3 linked regions of the Homo sapiens genome follow. The protein of the gene in region 2 interacts with the protein of the main gene of each other region in a pairwise test. Each region holds a gene or a part of one and is shown on either strand. Other genes may lie near its edges.

Region 1 (7,868 bases), on a different chromosome or scaffold from region 2:
GGTCCCTACCATGCACACCGGGGGGGCTCGGCAAAACCCAGCAAGGGGAGCAACCACCGTCCCTCCAGAGGCTGCCGGTCCTGGGCAAGCTCCCAGCAGAAAGTCCACTTGGTGTTTGAAGTGCAACATACAAATCATTCGTTCCTTTGGGTTAGTGGTGAAGGACACAAAAATAACTGCGAGATTCAGGGAAGGCAAGGCAGGGCTTCAGCGGGGCAGGGGGCTCCAGGCGCCCTGTGCCATCGGAGCTCACCCAGGAGCCCAGTGGCGGGGGGCAGAGACAGCTTGGAAACACCCACCACAGCAGCTCATGAAGGAGTCTCCCAGAGCCCCTTCCTCGGTTCTTGTCAAAGGCATAGGCAAATATCTTAGCACCATTTCCATCTGCATCCACTTCCATTCGGGCCTGAGAAGGAACAAGGGAAAGAGCTGTTAAAAAACCTCCAATTCTCAGCAACACTTCAATTCCCTCTTAGAAAAACCAAGTGAAACAAGCAAGCCAGAGGGACAAATGCCAGCCCTGTCCCTGAGACCCTGGGGAGTGCAGAGCTTCCCACAGGCACATGGCTCCCAGGGGCCAGCGTGGCCCACCACCACTCTGTCTATTCGAGCAAGAAACACTCACAAACAACTCTGCAAAATACAATGGGACATAGACAAATACATTTTCCTACCCTTAAAAAAAGCCCACGGTGCAGTGAGATAGAGAACCCCCTGGAGAGGTCACTACTGTGAATGTGTGGGGCACAGAGATAAAGGATGGTGAGGGAGGCCAAGCTCAGCGGCAGGAATGGAAGCTGGGAAGAGGCAGGAAGACCCCATGAGAGCAGAGAACGGGAGGCAGCTGGGCAGCCAGGAGGGACTGCTAAGGCAGGCCCAGCAGAGGTGGCTAGCTCTAAAGAGCAGGGTCTTCGAGCTAACAGACATGGTCCACGTGACACAATCACAAACATGAGAACATTCCATTTGCTTTCAAGAGGAGCTGGCAGCTGGGGTGAAAGTGAGGAAGACCACTGTCGCCAGGCCATGTGGGCCACAGTGGGCTCCAGTGGCAGCAACAGCCAGGTTCTGCAGGGCCACGGCTCGAAGTGGGGCTGACGGCTCAGGGCTCACAGGCCAGCACCAGTTGTCCACTTGTGGGGCCGCCTGCTCTTGCAGCACAGGGGAGAGAGCTCGTTCCTCGTGACCCTCCTGGGCACTGACCACGAGCATCAGGGGAGGGAACAGCCATCCTTACTTACCTCAAAGGAGTAGCTCTCCACCAGCGGGATGTCCTGCTCATCGATCAGCGTGTATTTGGTCTGGAAGTTAACCACATGTTTCAAATCATTACATTTGGGATCTGCGTGAGGTGCAGTAACCTTATAACCAGAACAGGCAGGAGCCTGTTGCATTTTCCTGTGAAGTGGAAAGTAACTACAGGCCTCTTCAGACCAAGACAGCTCAGCACATGGGGGCCTCATTCCACCGTTTGGGGTGGTGCAGTCTACGACAAAACACAGGCAGACAGGTTAAAAGCCAGCTGCCCACTTTAGTCTGCGCCAGAGGAGCTGGTATCAGGCTTCATCCTCGCAGGGCTAACCCCAACAGTGGCACTGAACATTCAACGCACCAATAAACCTAGGCAAAGACTGTTTCACTGAGCTGAGGGAGGGGCCGGGGCTGAGGCAGAAGAGCCAGAAGGTTTTGATTAGGGTGTGTTTATTAAGCTGAGCTACTCACTGATTACCCTTTTTAGCTTTTTGTCCATCTGAAATGTTCCAAAGAAAAGCTGTAAGGGATGACAATGCCATCATGGGTGGAGTTAGAAGGGGTCTCTGGTCTCCGACCTGACTGGAGAGCCCACCCTTCCCTGGTGGAAAAAAGCCTCCTCCCCAGCAGGCCCTGCCTATGCTCTTGCAGCAGGGGCAGGAAACAGGAACAGGTCCCAGAACGGGCCAGTCTCCCTCTTGGCAGTTTTTCTTCTGGGATCTGAACCTGTTTTACCTGACGCCGCCTGACACTGCCTCGGCTCCTCTCTCCCACCAAAAGCCGCAGCCGCTGGTGACGGGAACAGGGCTCCCATCCGGGTAAGGACCCTGGCTGGTGCAGCTGCACAGGTGGCTCCGAGAAACCGCCAAGCCTCAATGCCCACAGGTGCCATGGAATCCCCAGCCTCAAACGTGGAGCGTGGGGGCCAAGTAAGAAGAGAAGTCGAGGAAGGCCCTGAGTCTGCAGCATCAGGGCCCAGGCTTCTTCCTCTCTGCTCCGAGTCTGAGGCTCAGCCTAACGTGGCCAACCCCTGGCAGCGTTAAAACGAGCCTGAAGCCCTGCTGAGAACTGGGAGGCACAGAAGAGCCCACACCAGACCCGCCTCGGCGAGAGGTGTGGAAGTGGCGCTGCCTCGGAAAGGGCGCTGTGTTTAAACCGTGTGGCCGCACTGGCAGCCCGGACGCCGCGCTAGGCCCCGGATCGCCGACACCACTGGGAGGGCTCCGGGAGAACGCGGCTCGGGCTCGAGCCACGCATCTCCGCACCCGGCTCGGGACAGGGCCGTGGCCTCCACCTCCGGCAGGGCAGGGCCGAGGGTGGCCAGGTGCACCCCAGAGCCGAGGGGTGCGTGCCCGCCGGCCTGCGAGAGGAAGCTGCACCCGCGCGGGGCCAGCAGCCGGGCCCGCGCAGCGTCCCCCGCCCCGCTGGGGCCCATCCCGGGCTCCGCGCCCCCGCCCCGGCCGCCGCCCGCACAACCGCCCCCGGCCCCGCGCGGAGGCCTGGACGGGCGAGACGGGCCGGGTCGCGGGCTCCGCGCCGCTCACCTTCCCGGCCACCCGGCCGAGCCGCACGATACCCAATTTGAAGTCGGTCATGGCCGGGCCTGCGCTCTCGGCCGGCAGCGCCGCTCCCTCGGGAGGCGCCGAGCGGGGGCCGGGGCGAGGCCGCGGCGCGCCGGGACAGGACGGGACCGGAGCCGGGGTCGGGGTAGCAGCCAGGCGGGCTCCGGGCGGGACGAGGCTGGGCCGGGCTCGGGCCTCCGCCGCCGCCTCGCGCCCGCCGGACCTGCCACGCGCCGCCGCCGCCGCCGCCACCGCCACCGCGCGCACCACAGCGAGCGGAGCGGAGGGGCGGGGCGCAGCCCCGGACACACCCCCCGGCCCGCCGCCGCTCGGCCAATGGCTAGGCGCGCACGGCGCCGACCGGCGCGCGCCGCCCCGCAACAACCAATAGGAGGAGGGCGAGTGCGCCGGCGCTCTGGGGAGCGGGGCGAGCGCGGGGGAGGGGCGAGGCCGGGGGCGGTGCCTGCGCGCGCCGACGTCAGTTTCGCGGGAAGCTTTGTGCGGGCAGCGGCGCCGCGCCTAGAGGGGCAGTGCGGAGTGTGGCTGGGGACTCGCGCCGGGTCCGTGGAGCTCTGCGAGCTGGCTGCTTTTCGCCTCCCTTGCGGTAGCCTCCGTAAGCTGTTTCCCGCCGCCGTCCTGGCCCCGAGCGCGGAAGGAGGAGGTGGACGGAGCTCGTGCGGGGCCCTCTGGGCGGGCGGGGAGCGGGCGAGGCGGGCTAGGAAGAGGCCGTTGCCGCGGGACGCGGGTGTTTCTGGAGAGACAGCGGACGCCCGGCCCACGCGACCCGGAGGGCGCGGCCTCCCGCGCAGCCTTCTCCGAGCCGCCGGCTCTTCAGCCTCGGGGGCGGCTGACCTCCAGAGCAGCCTGGTCCAAGGCGTCTGGAAACGGAACTCCAGTGAGGCCCATTAGGCTCCGCGGGAAAGCCGAGACCCGCTCAGGGAGGGACTGGGTACGCCGTGGTGGGCAGCGTGGCTCCCCTGCAGCCTGGAGCGAACGGGGCTAGGTCCTGCGTCCTGCTCCGCCGGTGTCCAGTCGCCCGTGAGGAGGCCTCACCCTGCCTCAAGGGCGACTCCTGCACCTGAGGAGCTGCACAGGCTCCTTTCTGGCTTGCTGGGTTCCGTTTTCTTTTCTTGCTTTTTTTTTTTTTTTTTTTGAGTCAGAGTTTTGCTCTGTCACCCAGGCTAGAGTGCAGTGGCACGATCTCGGCTCACTGCAGCCTCTGCCTCTCGGGTTCAAGCGACTCTCCTGCCTCAGCCTCCCGAGTAGCTGGGACTACAGGCACGCGCCACCATGTCCGGCTAATTTTTGTATTTTTAGTAGAAGTGAGGTTTTTCCATATTGGCCAGGATGGTCTCGAACTCCCAACCTGAGGTGATCGGCCCACCTCGGCCTCCCAAAGTGCTGGGATTACAGGCATGAGCCACCGTGCCCCAGCCTGCAAAGGGTGTACATGAGTGAGCCCAGACGTTCCATCTCTGGGTCCCCTGGTACTTGCCAGTACCCCAGACACCCTAGAGGACTGAAGGGGCTGATGAGTCCTGGCCTGCCTGAGACACACATTGGGGTTCAGGCTGGGCCTTGCTCAAAACATGCCTGTCCGACCGCGCGCGGTGGCTCATGCCTGTAATCCTAGCACTTTGGGAGGCCGAGGCGGGCAGATCACGAGGTCAGGAGCTGGAGACCATCCTGGCTAACACGGTGAAACCCCACCTCTACTAAAAATACAAAAAAAAAAGCCGGGCGTGGTGGCGGGTGCCTGTAGTCCCAGCTACTTGGGAGGCTGAGGCAAGAGAATGGCTTGAACCCGGGAGGCAGAGCTTGCAGTGAGCCGAGATCGTGCCACTGCACTCCAGGTTGGGCGACAGAGCGAGACTCCGTCTCAAAAAAAAAAAAAAAAGTACCTGCCCTACCAATCTCAACCTCATGGAGTTGCAAGGGTGTGATGAGATTATGAGCAACTGCTTTGTGAAAAGAAGTGGAGCTTGGTGGGTGCTCCCTAGGGTAGTTGAAAAGCACTGGTGTCATAGTCCAGGTTCCCCCAGAGGTTGACTTGAAATGGATTCGAGTCCAAATTTTGTCCGGGCCTGGTGGCTCATACCTGTAATCCCAGCACTTTGGGAGGCCGAGGCAAGTGGATCACCTGAGGTCAGGAGTTCAAGACCAGCTTGGCCAACAGGGTGAAATCCCGTTTCTACTAAAAATACAAAAATTAGCGGATGTGGTGGCACACACTTGTATTCCCAGCTACTTGGGAGGCTGAGGCAGGAACATCGCGTGAACCCAGGAGGCAGAGGTTGCAGTGAGCCAAGATTGTGCCACCACACTCCAGTCTGGGCAACAGAGTGAAACTCCGTCAAAAAAAAAAAAAAGTCCAAATTGTTAGCTTGAGAGAAGACCCCAGGAGACACCAGCAGGAGAGTAGGGGTGTGAGGCAGGGAAGGGGGTGCTACCAGTCCAGTTACTGTAGCAGGCGCTTGTGTAGGAACCATCCTCAGAGTCCCTCCCCGAGGGCCAGGGGAGCCAAGGCATTCACCCTTCACCCTGCTGCAAGGGGACCCAGCATTCACCTCTCACCTTGCAGTCATTGGTTGGAGGCTGTTCCTGGCAAGGTGACTTCTTGGCTCCAAAGCCGAGAAAGACCTGCAGGTGTTGACACAGCGCAGTGCTGCGGGCAGTGCCCAGCTGGCTTGGGAACTCATACCTGGTCCACCACAAGCCGGCTGCTTTATCTACACATTCTACCCAAGTATGAATGTGGCACCCCTGCCTCTGTGTCCTGCGAGGGTGGAATTATGTAACGCTGGGGCGGTGCTTCCTCTCACTGCAGCTTCCCTCTCCCAGGGGCAGGCACCTTAAAAAGAAGCCCTTGACTCCCCCATCCCTTTCCAGCCACTGCCTCATTTTCCTACTTCCCATCCCAGCAAGAGTTTTTAACAGGTTGTCTGTACTTGGCGTCTCCTCTTATCTCCTAGTTAATTCGTTTTCTATCACTTTATAACAACCAACCACAAAAGAGCACCCATTATCTCACGGTTCTGTGCATTAGAAGTGCAGGTGGGTTTGACTGGCTTCTCTGCTGCAGGTCTCAGGGCTGAAATCAGGGTGTCAGCTGCCTCAGCTCTTAGCAGGGGCCCTAGGGGAGACCCGGGCTACAGGCTCCTTCAGGTTGTTGACATTCATCACATGGTTGTATGAGGTCTCCGCTTGCTGGCTGCCGGCCCGGGGTTGTTCTCAGCTTCTAGAGGTCGCTCACATCTTCAAAACCAGCAAGACTTTCTTTTCTTTTTAGACAGAGTCTGGCTTCGTCATCCAGGCCGGAGTGCAGTGGTACAATCTCGGGTCGCTGCCACCTCCGCCTCCCGGGTTCAAGTGATTCTCCTGCCTCAGCTTCCCGAGTAGCTGGGACTACAGGTGCCCTCCACCATGCCCAGCTAATTTTTAAATTTTTAGTAGACATGGTTTCACCATGCCAGCCAGGCTAGTCTTGAACTCCCGGCTTCAAGTGATCCGCCCGCCTCAGCCTCCCAAAATGCTGGGATTACAGGTGTGAGCCATTGTGCCCGGCCAAAGCCAGCCTTTCTACTACTTCACGTCTTTGATCCTTTCTGTCCCATTTCTCCCACCTTCAGCTGGAGAAAGCTTTATGCCTTTAAGTGTTCCTGTGATTAGATTGGGTCCACCCAGATAAACAGGATAATCTCCCTATTTTAAGGTCACTAATTGGTAACCTACTTACATCTGCAAAGTCCCTTTTGTTATGTAACATAATATTACAGGCGCAGGCATAAGGGCGTGACACCTTTGGGGGGCATTCTGCCTACCGCCCAAGTCTCCTGACAGCCCACTCCAGCTGGGCTTTCACCCCTCCCACTGCTGAAACTGCTCCACACCAATGAACAAAATCAATGAAAGCCCCTGCTCATACTCGAGTGAGGGGGGCAGAACATACACGTAATGAGGAACCATACACCGCGTTGGCCAGTGAGAAGTGCAATGGGGAGAACAAGTCCATCACCATAAGGCAGTCAGAGGCCCTGCTGCAGGGGTGGGCAGAGCCGTCCTCTGAGAAAACAGCATTGGAACTTGCAGTGGAAGGAGACAGAGTGAGCCGTGTGGCTATACAGGGCAGAACATTCTTGGCAGAAGGAACGGCCTGTGCAAAGGCCCTAAGCTGCGACATGTCTGGCATGTTTGAAAATAGAGAGGTGGGGCTGGGTGTGGTGGCTCACTTTGGGAGGCCGGGGTGGGTGGATCACTTGAGGCCAGGAGTTCAACACCAACCTGGCCAACAGGGCAAAACCCTGTCTCTACTAAAAATACAAAAATTAGCCAGGTGTGGTGGCACATGCCTGTAATCCCAGCTACTCGGGAGGCTGAGGCAGGAGAATCGCTTGAACCCAGGAGGCAGAGGTTGCAGTGAGCTGAGATCACTCCACTGCACTCCAACCTGGGCAACAGGGCAAGACTCTGTCATGAAAGAAAATGGATGGCCTGAACCTGGGAGGTGGAGCTTGCAGTGAGCCTAGATCACGCCACTGCACTACAGCCTGGGCGACAGAGCAAGACTTCGTCTCGAAAGAAAATGGAGAGGTGGCCAATGAACTGGCCACTGAGAAGCAGCAGCACATGGGGCGGCGGGAGGGGCGGCAAGTACAGGATGAGCATTCAGATCTGAAATCTGAGATGCTGCAAAATCTGAACCTTGTAAGCACTGACATGACACTCAAAGGAAGTGCTCATTGGAGCATTTTGGATTTTGGATATGGAAAGCGCCATCAGGCAAGTATAATACAAAGAGTCCAAAATCCAAAATCTGAAACACTTCTAGTCCCGAGCATTTTGGATAAGGGACACTCGACCTCTCCTGGTAAGTGGTGATGTTTGGACCTGTGGTGGAGGGGTGTGTATGTCAGGATGGGCCTGGGTATGCTGCAGTAACAACCCCAAGTTCTCAGCGGCTTAGCCAAATAAAAATGTGTTACTTATGCTACATGTTAAGGTTACAAGGCAGTTGAATGTATAAGTAGAATATGTGAGTATAGAGTTCACAGAGAT
Region 2 (7,781 bases):
ATGCTTGGCTTTGTGATCACCACAGGAAGGCAGCTAATGGCAGCCAATAGGCACACGCTGGCCACCTGTTGCAACATGACTTGGAGATGGAGCAACCGATAAAGAGAAAGTCCTCCGTTCACAGCCATCTACTGGCCGGCTCCGGAGCACTGATCCTGCACACACACTGAGACCCAAGAACCCCATGAGAGAAATCAAATACTAAGGAACAAGATTTTGTCTGGTAGGGTTGATCTTTGAAAGGCTACAAATCATCCTACTAGCCAGGATTTTTCACCCCTTGGGGGTGATGCTGCATCCTCTACATATCCAAATTTCCTCCCTGACACCCTCCAACTGCCAGCCCTGTCCCTTGCTGTTTGGATTCTTTTTCCTTTCGCAATTTCCTTAGGTTCCCTGCTTTGTAATCTTCACCTCAATCCTAACCCCTGGCCAAAGCAGCTAAGCCTCAACAATTCCACAGCAATACTTCTCCTCCGACAGAAACATTCAGGGCTCCAACAGGGTGGAAAACATGAGGCTGCAGGATGTTTAACAGGAGTCTTTGCTGCAGCTCCTCTTGGAGCCTTTAACGAGATACTATCATGCCTATGAACTGCCACACAGATGTACATGGCATAGCACTGCCCAAAAGTATCAGCCCAAGGAACCCTACTTTCCCCAGCAACATCTAACTCAGAAATGCTGATCTTTGGCCTCAATCTGGTCCCAAAATACCTCCAGGGTATTTTGGGCTTCGGTGTGTTCACACACTTGGTCATGTAAATCTGAACACAGACTCTCTCTGCCTTGGCAAGAACCCCCCACACCCCCATAGATAATTACACCCTTTGGTTCTCCCTCTGCAATCTCACCTGCTAGAGACCCTCATCATTCCCACTCCCTGGCTCAGGCCTTCAGAAAACTCAGGTCTGGGCCCTTTGATGATGCTTCCCTGGTCCTGCTCCTGCTTCTAAACATCTAATCTCATCTAACCATCTAATCTCATCTCAACACAAGAAGCCTCATGGATCAGCCAACACAAAACCCTCAAGAGACCTCATGCCTGGAAGCAGGCGGGATCCCTGACCTTCCCAGTGTCATACACAGAATGATACTCTTTTAGCAGGGAAAGGGTCTACAGCCACCATCAGATTCCCAAGAGTGTATGACTGAAAAAGACTTTGAGCTAGTGGCCTCAAGCCACATTCTCTCTGAAGAGGAATGCGCAAGACAGTCCACAGGCATATGCGAGGGAAAAAATAATAAAACCCGTTCATAATTCTCATCTCATCCTTTAAAAATTCTTGTTTAAGGACATTATAAGGAGAGCCGTGTGCATATACAGGTTAGGGGCATGCTAGGCACACATTCCAGTTTCTGTTTGAATGACTGGTCCTTCCTCCTGGGCCCTCACCACAGACCACAATCCCCACCTGGGCTCTGCCACCCAGCCGACTCCATTCTTCTGCCTTTCCAGGGAGGAATCCTTTCTTGCCCTTCTGGAGGAACCCTATCCCTGTGAAAGCAGGGAAAGCTGCCCATCCTGGTGAAGAGCTCACTGTGTTGGAGTCCTACATTCCCAACAACTGCAGGTCAACACACAGGAGAAAGAACAGGCAGTGGACTTTTTTTTTTTTTTTTTTTTGAGACGGTGTCTCGCTCTGTCGCCCCGGCTGGAATGCAGTGGCGCGATCTCGGCTCACTGCAAGCTCCGTCTCTGGGGTTCACACCATTCTCCTGCCTCAGCCTCCCGAGTAGCTGGGACTACAGGCGCCCGCTACCACGCCCGGCTAATTTTTTGTAGTTTTAATAGAGACGGGGTTTCACCGTGTTAGCCAGGATGGTCTCGATCTCCTGACCTCGTAATCCGCCCGCCTCGGCCTCCCAAAGTGCTGGGATTACAGGCGTGAGCCACCGCGCCCAGCCACCAGCAGTGGACTTTATCCACAAGGCTCGGCCTCTGTCTCTTCATCTGTAAAAGAGGACAGTTTTTAACCTTCACAGACGGCTAATTTTTAAAACTTCACAAAACTGTGAGGTTCAACGGAAATCAAAGTGCAAAAGGCAAAAAAAGCCAGGATGTGCGCACACCTGTGGCTATCCTCCCAGCGTGTTAAGGTCCTGAATCTGGCCACATTCATCTCTGCTCCTCTAGCACGGAGTGTGCACCCCGTAAACAAATGACGAGACTGAGGAAAATAAAGACCTGACACATAGCTCCGTGCCACTCTGTGAAGATGCGTGCCGCTTTCATCAAGCACAAGCAGGTTAAGGATATCTGTTGCCGCCACCTTTGGGAAGCGCAGCTGTGGTGATCTGCGCTACCTGCCATCGGAATCCCTGCGGCAGGGCAGGGCCAAGATCTCAAATCGAATGACATGGAAGGAGCTAGAATACAAATCCCGAAGAGCCTGCGTCCCCGGCTTGCTAAGGTCTGGCAGGCCCCTCTGTGGGGCGGACGTGGCACCCCAGACCTGCCTGCAACACCGCGCAGCCCGCCCGCCCCCGAGAGCGCGGTTACCGGGAAAGTCACACTTGTAAGGGCGCTCGGGCTCGAAGTGGCTGCGCTGGTGGGAGCTGAGCTTGGCGTGCGTGGGGAAGCGCTCGGCGCACACCTCGCACTTGAACAGGCTCTCCTGCTCGTGGCCCTTCATGTGCGCCTTGAGGTTATAGACCGTAGTGAACTTCTTGCCACAGCCGCCCACTGGACAGCCGAAGGGCCGCAGCTTGTCGTGCGACTGCAGGTGCCGCTTGAGCTTGTAGGACGTTGTGAAGGCCCAACCACAGCCCTCCAGTGGGCACTTGAAGGGCCGCCGGCCCTGACCGCCGCCGTGCGTGAGCAGGTGCACCTTGAGCTGGTGCTTCTTGGCGAAGGCCAGCGCGCACTGCGGCTCGGGGCAGCGGTAGCCGGGCGTGCTGGGGCCGGAGGCCTGGGGCGCGCGGCGGGGAGCGGCGGCGCCCGCGGTTGCGGGGCCGGGCGGCGCAGACAGCGCGAGGACGCCGCGGTCGAGACGCACCAGCAGGTCCTGGCTGCTGATGGTGACGGCGCCCGCCGGGGCTACGCCAGGGCCGGGGGGGGCGGCCGGGCCGCTGGGGCCCTGCTCGGGGCGGCTCGCCAGGTTGACACGGGAGCCAGGCTCGGCCTCCTGTGATCCGGCAGCCTCGGCGGCAGCGCCGCCGTGCGGCACTTCCAGCAGCACCAAGAAAGAGTCGCCGTCGCTGTCGTCCTCGGCGGGCGGCGGGCTTGGCCCGGAGGCCTCCCCGGGCCGCGCCCCGGGCCCGCCATCTTCAGGGCCCCGCACCAGTAGCAGGCGGCGGCGCGCGGGGCTCGCGCCGAGCGGCGCTGGGGCTCGGCGGAGCGGGCCGGGGCCGCCGCCATGTTGCCCTCCGCGCGCAGTCGGGGCGGGGAGCAGCGCCGGGAGGTCCATCTTGGTCCCAGCGACGGCGTCGGAGCAGCTTCGGACGCAGAGCTGCCCGCGCCCCGCCCAGGTGTGCGTGCGCCGCCCCGGGACGCGATCCGCGCCAAGCCCCGGCGTAGAGTCCGGCTCGGAACCGCGCGTGCGCGGACGCCGCCGGGCGATGCGCGAGGCCTGCTGGGCTGACGTGACGTGAGGCTGGGCTGCGGGGCGCCGGAGGCGGAGGCGGGGGCGGGGCGCCGGGACCGACTAGGGCGGGGCGCGGGGTCGGGGGGCGGGGCGCGGGGTCGGGGGGCGGGGCGCGGGGTCGGGGGGCGGGGCGCGGGGTCGGGGGGCGGGGCGCGGGGTCGGGGGGCGGGGCGCGGGGTCGGGGGGCGGAGCGCCGGCACCTACGAGGGCGAGCGGCGGGGCACGGGACCGACAGGGGACGGGGTGAGGCTCCCAACGCTGAGCGATTCCTTCTCGTTCCCGCTGGCGTGGAAGACGAGGCTTGTCTTGACTTCGAATCGTATTAATATTTCAGACACTTAACAGGCAACCTCTCGTAGGCATTGACTGCGTCCCAGGGGCTGTACCTGTCCGAGCTGATTAAGCGTGCGCGGTCACCCAGGGGTGAGGAAACAGGGACGGCGAGCTCGAGTCACTCGGCAGCCGGCAGATCCAGGATTCGAACCTGTCCAACAGGCCGGACGCCTACCCCCAGCTCACTTAAGTGCAAGCTCGCCTGCCGCCGCTGGCGCACAGACCTCGTTTGCTTTGGCCCAGGTCCTTGCTCGGCACACGGGGCCTCCCTGATACGCAGGACCCCTGCCTGTATTTCCAACTGTATTTCCTACTAAACTTGGCACAACCTCACTCTGCAACAGCTTAATTACTTACTGTTTCCGGTCCTCACCCTCCCCCACCTCACCGTACACCTCCGCATTCAATCTGGACTCCTCCACTTCAACTTCACCACCACTCAGATCCAAACCCGCACTTTATTCCTGGGTACCTGAAAAATAACTACTAGCTGGTCATCGGTCTCCCTCCGCTCCACTCGCTCCCATCCACGGGGCACCGTTTTATGATCTAAAAATTGCACATCAAATTATGCTCACCTCCACCTTGCTCCCGAAGGCGCCTATGGCCTTGCTAGTCTACCCTCCCCTACCTGTTTGCCCTCACTTCCCGCCACTCTCCCGCTGCCCCCCCCACCCCTCCCCCGCACCCCACCTCTTTTTCCCAGTTCATCCAGCAAGCCAAGCTGGTTCCAGCCTCAGAGACTTGGCGCAGCTGATCTCTGATTCCTCTGGGAGGACTCTGCGCCCCTTCTGATCCAAAGCACATGCTTACCCAGTCCCGTATTCCCACCTCTGTCTGATCTGTTTGCTCTTAGAGCTCTCATCACCCGTTGTTTTGTTGAGTTCCTTCCCTGCTCCTTCACTGTCTCTCCCTCTCTGGAATGTAGGCTCCTGGAGCCCAGGAACTGTGTCCTATTCACTGTGTGTGCCCAGGAAGACTCTTGGTGCATATTTGTTAAATACATGAATGCTTTATTATTAAGAGTATTTTTTTAAGTAACACAAATTATAATATTAAAAAGAATAGGATACATCTATTATATATATCAGTTTATGCCGAAAACATATTGTTCCTAGACCATTCAGTAGAGGAAAGAATAGTCATTTCAATAATGGCGGCACTGGGACAACTGGATCTCCACATGCAAAAGAACCAATTTGGACGTGTATCTCTCATCAGAGGCAAAAATTAACTCAAATTAGAGCAAAAGCCTACACGTAAGACATAAAACTATTTGAAGAAAAGTAGGTGTAAATCTATGTGACCCTGGATTAGGGAATAGTTTCTTAGATATAATATTGAAAGCACAAGAAAGAAAAATAGATAACTTGGACTTCATCAAAATTAAAAACTTACTCAGGTAAAAGGACACCAATAAGACAGTGAAAAGACAACTCAGAATGGGAGAAGGGTGTGCAAATCGAATATCTGATAAGGATCTACTATCTGGAATATATAAAGAACTCTTAGCAAGAAGACAAACAGTCCACTTTTTTAAAAGGCAAAGGTTTGAATAGACATATTTCTCCAAAGAAGATAATACAAACAGCCAATAAGCAAATAAAAAGAGGCTCAACATCACGAATCATTAGGGAAATGCAAATCAAAACACAGTGAGATACAACTTCACACCTACTCAAATAGTGGTAATTTTTTTAAAAACAGGATATAGAAAAATTGGAACTCTCACATATGGCTGGTGGGAATGTATAACGTTGCGGTGTGGAAAACAGTTTGGCAGTTCTGCAGAAAGCTAAACATAATCTCCACATGACCCAGCAAGTCCATCCCTGTGTTGCTGAGGCTGGAGTGTGGTGGCTATTCACAGGTGCAATCATAGTGCGACCTCCAACTGGCCTCAAGCAGTCCTTCCGGGTCAGCCTCCCAATTAACTGGACTACAGGCATATGCCACCATGCCCAACTTGTTGCGCAGCATTGATTATGCCACATTCTCGTGATCAAAGAAGTCATAAGACACTGCAGACCCAGGCAAGGGGAACTTGTACTCCACCTCTCAATGGGAGGTGCTGGAAAGAATTTGCAGCCATTTTTAAACTATCACAACTTCTCTGTGCCTCAGTTTCCTCATGTGTAAAATGAAGGGGACTGAGAAAGAAAAAGGGCAGCCCCTGCCATCCAGAAACTGGCCGGGTGCTACAGCTGGGCCACTCTGTTCTGTAAGACTTGAACCATCACGCAGAAAACCAACCTAGGCCAAGGTCACTGAAACACAATGACATGAGACAAAGCAAGGCCACTTCATGATGTGTCTCCACCCAGATAAAGCGAGGTCACTTGCTGTGCCATTTACAAGATACCCAGCAGCCCCTCTCTCAGCTAACGTGAGCAGCCGCCGCTTTTGTACCCCTGACAGCCTGTCTGTCTGTGTGCTTCCCTCTCTGTATATAGGATTTAGTCAGAAACCTAGTCATGGTGTTGACCCGATTTCTGGTAAGAGCCAATCCAGAGCAAATCCCCGCTTCCTAAGACTCCCCCACCCAACCAAAGCTCAAATCTGATACTAGGTTGTTTCAGATACTAGGTTGTTTCAGCCTTCTGCTGAGATACCCTGAAAGGAGCAACAGGACTCCTGGCGAGGGTCAGACGCGCCACTTCACCAGGTGGGCTTGAGTCAGCTCAATGTGGTCATCCAGTGGGGCTCAGGCAGAGACTTGAACTTGGTAGTCTCAAAGGAGTGCCCCAAATTACAAGGACCACAGAGATTGTGCCTTGGCCAGCCAGACCTGTACTCTCCAGGCTGTGTGGAAAGGATTTTGGAGAAGCCAGGGGAAGGGACGCAGATGACACACGCATGCACGCTCAGATTTATTTGTGTCTGGGGAGAAATCCCATCAGCCCAGGTATCGCTGGATGTCCAGCACCTCTTTTGGGCTAAAAGGCATCATGTGGATCTTGAGATTGCTAACAGAGAAGTGTCCAGGATTCCCAAATTTTGATGGGAGTGGGGATGAGGTTCACTGGGAGCAAAAGAGCATCTCTTTGTCAAAGGTCACAAGTTCAAATCCCAGCAGAGGTCATACAAGTCACACAAATGTGGGAGACAGGTGGGCACAGGAAACATAGACTCTCATGCCAAGGGACAAACAGCATACACGCTCCGCCTCACCATGGGTTCTGTAGGGACTGGAAGGGACTGTGGCCAAGTGCAGAGAGCTAGGCCAGCCCAGAGGGGCCCCCAGCAAATCACTGCCACAGAGGTGGTGAGAACATGGTGTTACCTTATATCTTGATTTTCAAAAAATAAGCTCTGGATTTCTCCCAATTTGTAAACATTGGTGACAAAGTCAAATTTTTTTAAAAACAGGACAGACCAAACAAAACACAACTGCAGGCTGAGTGTAGTGCTGTGCTCCTGTGGTCCCAGCTACTTGGGAGGCTAAGGCAGGAGGATCACTTCAGCCCAGGAGTTCAAGGCTACAGTGAGCCATGATTGCACCACTGCACTCCAGCCTGAGTGACAGAGCAAGATCCTATTTCTAAAAAATATATAAATAAAACATAACTGCAGGTCATGCCCGGCCCACAGGCCCCTGTGTGGTTGTCTACTCTGGGAAAACTGGAATGGGAGAGTGCATCACTCAGCCAGGCCCTCCCTCCCTGACCTTGGCTTGCCAGCAAGGAAAGCATACAGTTCCCAGGGACCCTGGGTTTGCAGAGAGCAGGCGCTGCCCAGGGGGAGGACCCTAATGCTGTACTGCAGGGCCTGAGCCTTTCTCACCTCCAACTCTTAAGGCAACTGAACCCTACACTCATCATGGCCAACTGGTTTCTCTTTTAATCATTTTGATGAAAACAT
Region 3 (6,834 bases), on a different chromosome or scaffold from region 2:
ATTTCCAATTGAATAATTTAGTCAAACCTGAGTTAGGTTAACATTGAAAAGCATTCTCTCAGGTACATAAATACATTAAGAGAAAGTGACTCATTTCACTAATTCGGTGTGTAAATTATTTCTCAACAGCCAGAACCCACAGTCAAACATTTCCTTGGTTCCATCTTCTAATGCTACAGATTGCTTTAAAGGGCTAATCTGTAAGTAGGTTGTGCCAGCGTCTACCCTTGAATGTAGAATTTGTGCCATTCTGGCAGGTAGATAATCTTACTAGCTAGCTGAGGCTGTAACTTGCCTTTCAAAGCTCACTAAAAAGTTATCAAATGGCTCTCTTACATCATAATGTCTTTTTAAAATGAGGAGGTACTTTATGAATCAAAATGCTAAAATGACTAAGCAGGAACATTTCCCTAAAGCTTTCAAAGGACAGCCTATTTGTCTAAGCAGAGTTGTGTTAGTTTTAGCTAAAAGACCTGCTGTTTTAAAGTATGCATTTTGATGGTCTCAAAACACTTTCAAAATAAAATGCTATCACTGTTAGTATTACTAAATCTGTTCCACTGAAGCTGTTTATATAAATAAGTATCAGAGCTAATTTAGTTTGAATTTGGATTCTTTTAATAGCCTCATAATAAGTGCCATACAGGGTTTTTATTCACAGGCTTGAATGACAAAGAAATTCTGACAAGTTTAATACCCATCTGTGATTTAAGTCTGGCAAAATACAGGTCATTGAAACAGACATTTTAACTGAGTTTTATAAAACTATACAAATCTTCCAAGTGATCATAAATCAGTTTCTCACTACAGGTACTTTAAAGCAACTCTGAAAAAGTCACACAATTACACTTTTAAGATTACAGTGTTTAATGTTTATCAGGATACATTTCTACAGCTAGCAGGATAACAGATGAGTTAAGGGGCCTCAGACTACATCCAAGGGAATGTTTATTGGGCGATCCCAATTACACCACAAGCCAAACGACTTCCAGCGTTTCCTGTCTTTGTACTTTCTTCATTTCCACCTTTGCCCAAGTCATCTGCTTTTTCATGGACCTGTAAAAAATTTTAAGAAGATAACTTTGGGCTGTCAAGTAATCACTACCTCCTCCCAACAATACCCAAAAGATGTTTAAGAACCTCATAATATTAGAAAAATAACATTAATCCTAGTAGAGAGATATACTAATATTTAGTAGTTTAAAAGTAGAAACTACTACTCAAAGCTTTTTCTTGGTGTTGCAAAGACATTACCTTTAAACATTAGGTAAGTGTTGCTGTCTAAATGAAATACTAAAACCCAAATAACTATGTTGTAGACCACCACACGCTACCCTTAATCCTCCATGGTAAGTTACAGTAACCTTAGTTCCGCAGTCACTCTTACTTTGGCAGTTTTTTTAATTGCTTTGGAAAAAAAGGAAAGTGAAAGTGAATAAAACTCAAAATTTCATGCCAAATGAATGACGGGCCTATAAGTAAGGTATAATCCTAAAAAATCTTAATACTTTAAGCAACAGTATTTTGAATTTTGTTCAACAAACCTTTATAAATGATTTTTCTGCTTTACAACTATGGCTCAAGAAAAACCATAAAAATAAAGGGTTAACTGAATGGAAGTGACTACTGAATGTTAATGCCCTCAAGGGGAGGTAAAAGAGAGCCTGTCTACTTGGTGTTTTGCAAGAACCAGATGCAGTTCCCCAGGATAACTTGGGACAACAGCTTCCCACAAGTTAAACAAGTCATGATAACCTGCAGTCCTGAATGAACATGAATGAACATGAATACTTAAGTCCATCCCAGGTTTTAAACTTAACAAAATGTTCTGTTTAACAAGTGAGAAACCCAATCCTGGCAAGAAAATCTGGCCATTTTAAAACTAAAGACTACTTCTGTTTTCCAAACTCAGATCTAATATGGTCAAATGTAACCTGCTTTTTACTGCATCTTAGCAGAACAGTGTTCTTAACTGACCTAGATAAAATAATTCATTTTCACCGTAATTGTCCAATAAAATTGCTTTTCCTAATTTGAACTGCAAGTACAGTTTATCTGGATCTTTAGAAACCGCGACTAACAATCAAAGTGAAAAGATACATGACTGTATGTTAGAAGAAGTTTTATGCATATCCTTTTATGAAAACTTACCACCAGTGTGCGGCCAATGATGCAATGGTCTCCTGAGAGTGAGATCACAGAATCTTCAATAGACACATCGGCCACACCATCTTTGTCAGCAGTCACATTGCCCAAGTCTCCAACATGCCTAATAATGAAAAAGCATCAGATGGATTAGGGCTGATGCCACTAAACATCAAGGTAGTTCATGAGCTAAATTAAAACTTGACTGAGTAGACACAAATTTGCAAACAAGTAGCTAGGCATTCTAAATACAGCTCTTCAAACAAGGCTTCACGTCTACACACTAATGCTCTGGGAAGAAAGATGGGGCTGCACCTGATTTCAGAAGTACCAAAGGGTAAACTCTCAGTTACTGAGTTATGCCTGTTAATTACTGGCATAGCTAACAAAGCTATGTCCCAAGGCCTCTGATATAAAAATCTTGTCCTTAAATTTAATATTTTTCTGAAAGGCTTTCAGAAAACATACACATATAAATGGAGTCTCGACTAGTTTTCAGTATCAATTTTTTTTTTTATCTACAGAAGCTTCCTATGTTTCACAATGATGATTGATTTTGCTAGTGGTTGACAGTACTGTTCATGACATTTCCTGTATTAGTTCCCCTTTGGCACTTGTATTAGTTCTATATTCAATAAATGCTACAAAACCAAATCGTTTTAAGTGTCCCCATTTGTCAATTCCTTTAAGCCCAGGAAGTAAAAGCATTCCAGCATTTGGGAGCAGGGGTTTAGATGAGTCAGCAAGTTCAAAAGCAAAGGTGGGGGAAACACGGAATTATCTTAGCACATATTTACAAGTAGTATACCATATGAACTCCAGAAAGCTATCGCCATTATTACAAGAGTTAAGCATCTTGTTACCTCTCTTCATCCTTTGGCCCACCGTGTTTTCTGGATAGAGGATTAAAGTGAGGACCTGCACTGGTACAGCCTATTTATAAGAAGAAGAAAAAAAAGCTAAATTATGAATTAAAGTTCCCAAATACATTCTAAAAAGAAACACTGCTAAAACTTCCCATGGAGAAAGTGCTGACCTGCATCACGACTTCTGGGATAAGCAACACCTTGGTACAGCCACAGTGAGAAGGGAACAGAAACAAGTCTATGGCCAGGCATGGTGGCTAACACCTGGAACCCCAGCACTTTGGGAAGCTGAGGTGGCTGGATCATCTGAGGTCAGGAGTTTGAGACCAGCCTGGCCAGCATAGCAAAACCCTGTCTCTACTGAAAAAATACAAAAATTAGCTAGGCGTGGTGGTGCGCACCTATAGTCCCAGCTACTTAGTAGGCTGAGGCAGGAGAATCGCTTGAACCTGGGAGGCAGAGGTTGCAGTGAGCTGAGATCGCACCACTGCACTCCAGCCTGGGCAACAGAGCAAGACTCCATCTCAAAAAAAAAAAAAAAAAAACCCCACCAAGTTCTAACTACTGTCTGACACTTGTAAAGTTAACACCCTTCTCTGGGCTTTGGCTTCTTCACTGTAAAAATAAGGGACCAGACTGATCTTCAACAGTTTTTCTATTATTAAAATCCCATGGTTATGATCCAAATTCTTAAGAACGTAGTATACTTTACAAAAAACTCATCTCCCCAGCAACATATGCCAAGCAGTTCTATCTGTGCCCTTTACTTGGTGCAGGCAGAATATTCAACAGCATCTTATGTGCAAGGGCCAAGGCTGCTGCCTTACACAACTCGAGGGGGCGGCATTCCAACTGTATCCTGTGTAGAAGGTGCTGCTGTGCACCAGGGGATGACATTCACAGAGCACAACCTCGACAGCACAGGAGGCCCTTTCATAACACGGCTGTCTTCAGCCACGCTCTCACCCGCAGGAGTCCCACACAGGGAGAAAGGCAGGCAAGTTACAGGAAGCAGCAGAGCAATCACCTCCCAGACCAGAGGCGGTAAAGCCAAAAAGCAACTCGGGGGAATTTCAGCAATTACAGAAATGGATCAAATCTGATCATTACAAATCACTATTTGAAACTAAATTAGCAAGATGAATAAAGTTAATTTAAGAAGAAATCTATAAACAAAAAAATCAGATTATTACTCAAATATGGCAAAAGATCACTAAATGCAACTTAACTCATAAACTTCTGTTAACTTGCTTCCAATCCCAAATTAAGAAAATAAAATTTGGCAGTTTCTCTGAACCTACTCTGGTTCAGGGGTTGCCTGATTTTTTAAAAATACTTTAAAAAAATTTTTTTTAAGCATATTCCAAAGTACCAATAATCCTCTGCATTCCATCTTCAGTTTGTATCATACTTTGGTCCCACTAAGAAGCCTGTGTTTGGGGTGTAGAGCTACTCTTACATGGCATTATGCAAATAAATGCAGCCCCTTTGCTCGAGGCACCCACCCTCAACCCCCAGCTCAAACACCTGGGATCATTACAAAAGTTAAGAGCCCAAGTTTTTATTTCCTATTTGCCTTCTTTAAAAAACACCCTCTTCTGGCTGGGTGCGGTGGCTCATGCCTGTAATCCCAGCACTTTGGGAGGCTGAGACAGGCGGATCACGAGGTCAGGAGAGAGACCATCTTGGCTAACACAGTGAAACCCCGTCTCTACTAAAAATACAAAAAATTAGCCAGGCGGGGTGGCGGGCACCTGTAGTCCCAGCTACTCAGGGGGCTGAGGCAGGAGAATGGCATGAACCCGGGAGGCGGAGCTTGCAGTGAGCCGAGATCGCGCCACTGCACTCCAGCCTGGGCCACAGAGTAAGACTCCGTCTCAAAAAACAAACAAACAAAAAAACACCCTCTTCTACAATGATGCTGTAAGACAAAACATCAACTCTTTCCCTTTCTTTTCCACACCTAGGTATCAAAGCCCAGTTTTGTGGCTAATCTTAAGGTTGATCTTCTTCTCTTTTTTTGGTTTCTAAAGACACACTACACCAAATCTTAAGACAAAGGGCACTGGACCTTCAGAAGCAGGTCCACCCCAGTCTTCACAATCTAGTGCAGTTACTTTTCTTGTGTGTACTCTGCTGGCATTATTACAAAAATCAGGATATGGTCCCAGTTCCTGCAATTTTAGCACAGTGCTTATATACAATAAAGTTGACCTCTTTTTTAAAAGAAAAGTTGAGGGTTTTCCCAGGCACAGTGGCTCACACATGTAATCCCAGCACTTTGGGAGGTCGAGGAGGATAGACCACTTGAGCCCAGCAGTTCAAGACCAGCCTGGGCAACATGATGAAACCCCACCTCTAGAAAAAAATACAAAAATTAGCCAGGCGTGGTGGTGTGTACCTGTAGTCCCAGCTACGGGCCAAGGCATGAGGATCAATGGAGCCTGGGAGGTCAAGGCTAAGGTCAGCCATGATCGCACAGCGCCACTGCACTCCAGCCTGAGCGACAGAGCAAGACCCTTTCTCAAAAACAAAAACAAGTTGAGGGGTTTTAACGTTTAGGGGCTACTCTACTGTTTATCTAACTAGGGTGAACAAGTATGGGTCACCAGCACAGCACAACACCCACCTGCTGTATTATCTCCAAACTCATGAACATGGAATCCATGCAGGCCTTCAGTCAGTCCTTTAATGCTTCCCCACACCTTCACTGGTCCATTACTTTCCTTTAAGAAAAGTGCAAAGTTGGAGAGAGTTTCTGAACAAAGAAAACAGCTGATTTACCTTTACCCCTCACAGTGAAGTAAAAAGCAGCCAGACTTGGGAGTGGAAAAATCTGTGTCCAAATCCCAGGCTGACCACTTTCTAGCCAGTGAACCTCCAGCAAGCTGCTTAACTGCTCTAGGCCTGTGTCCTCAAAAGGGAGATGGTAATCTTGTTCCCACACTCAATGCACAAGCACCCTGTGGCCAGGCTTCATGATTAAATAACATAAAAAGCACCTAATAGAGTGGCAAGCAAAGTGAGTACCTACACATCAGTGTTAGATACTTCATAGGCTTTGACTATTACAGTAAATAGGTAATGTAAGTACCTATTTATGTAGTAAATACTTTTGAATAGGTTATATTTGTACATGTTGAATATACATGTACATGTAAACGTTTTTTATTTTGAGACAAGAGTCTCGCTCTGTCGCCCAGGCTGGAGTGCAGTGGCATGATCTCAGCTCACTGCAAGCTCCGCCTCCCGGGTTCACGCCATTCTCCTGCCTCAGCCTTTTTAACCCAAAAGGTGTATGTCTCATCCTACACTCTGGAGCCCCTTGCTTTTTCTCCACGCACACCCTTTTCCATATGGCATACTCACTTGACTTTAAAAAAAAAAAAAGAAAAAGTCGCCCTGGAAATGTCCAACAGGCTACCCTGGGACCCCTGCTCTCCACTCCCCACTCAGTGAGTGTTTTTAAGTGTCCATCATAAGTTTTTTTCTTTTTTTTTTTGAGACGAGTCTCGCTCTGTCGCCCAGGCTGGAGTGCAGTGACATGATCTCGGCTCACTGCAAGCTCCGCCTCCCAGGTTCATGCCATTCTCCTGCCTCAGCCTCCTGAGTAGCTGGGACTACAGGCGCCCACCACCACACCCGGCTAATTTTTTTGCATTTTTAGTAGAGACGGGGTTTCACCGTGTTAGCCAGGATGGTCTCCATCTGCTGACCTCGTGATCCACCCGTCTCGGCCTCCCAAAGTGCTGGGATTACAGGCGTAAGCCACCACGCCCGGCTATCACAGGTATTTTTAATTAGCAGTCAGAAAATATTATAT

What was found. Proteins that work in one complex are often made in the same cells at the same time.
Region 1: the proteins of ZXDC (region 2) and ZMYND19 interact in binary tests that used the Homo sapiens proteins (3 or more experiments, as listed by UniProt).
Region 3: the proteins of ZXDC (region 2) and SOD1 interact in binary tests that used the Homo sapiens proteins (3 or more experiments, as listed by UniProt).

What each region holds. Positions count from the first base shown.
Region 1 is NC_000009.12:137,587,418-137,595,285, forward strand, and holds the start of ZMYND19 (zinc finger MYND domain-containing protein 19), read right to left. Parts: upstream 3,096-7,868; 5' UTR 2,847-3,095; coding exon 2,796-2,846; intron 2,771-2,795; exon of another isoform or gene 2,221-2,770; coding exon of another isoform or gene 1,987-2,220; intron 1,302-1,986; coding exon 1,242-1,301; intron 407-1,241; coding exon 300-406; intron 1-299. UniProt on the Homo sapiens protein: May be involved as a regulatory molecule in GPR24/MCH-R1 signaling.
Region 2 is NC_000003.12:126,472,456-126,480,236, forward strand, and holds the start of ZXDC (zinc finger protein ZXDC), read right to left. Parts: upstream 3,437-7,781; 5' UTR 3,411-3,436; coding exon 2,504-3,410; intron 1-2,503. UniProt on the Homo sapiens protein: Cooperates with CIITA to promote transcription of MHC class I and MHC class II genes.
Region 3 is NC_000021.9:31,662,693-31,669,526, reverse strand, and holds the end of SOD1 (superoxide dismutase [Cu-Zn]), read right to left. Parts: intron 5,738-6,834; coding exon 5,641-5,737; intron 5,222-5,640; exon of another isoform or gene 5,045-5,221; intron 3,079-5,044; coding exon 3,009-3,078; intron 2,270-3,008; coding exon 2,152-2,269; intron 1,057-2,151; coding exon 949-1,056; 3' UTR 596-948; downstream 1-595. UniProt on the Homo sapiens protein: Destroys radicals which are normally produced within the cells and which are toxic to biological systems.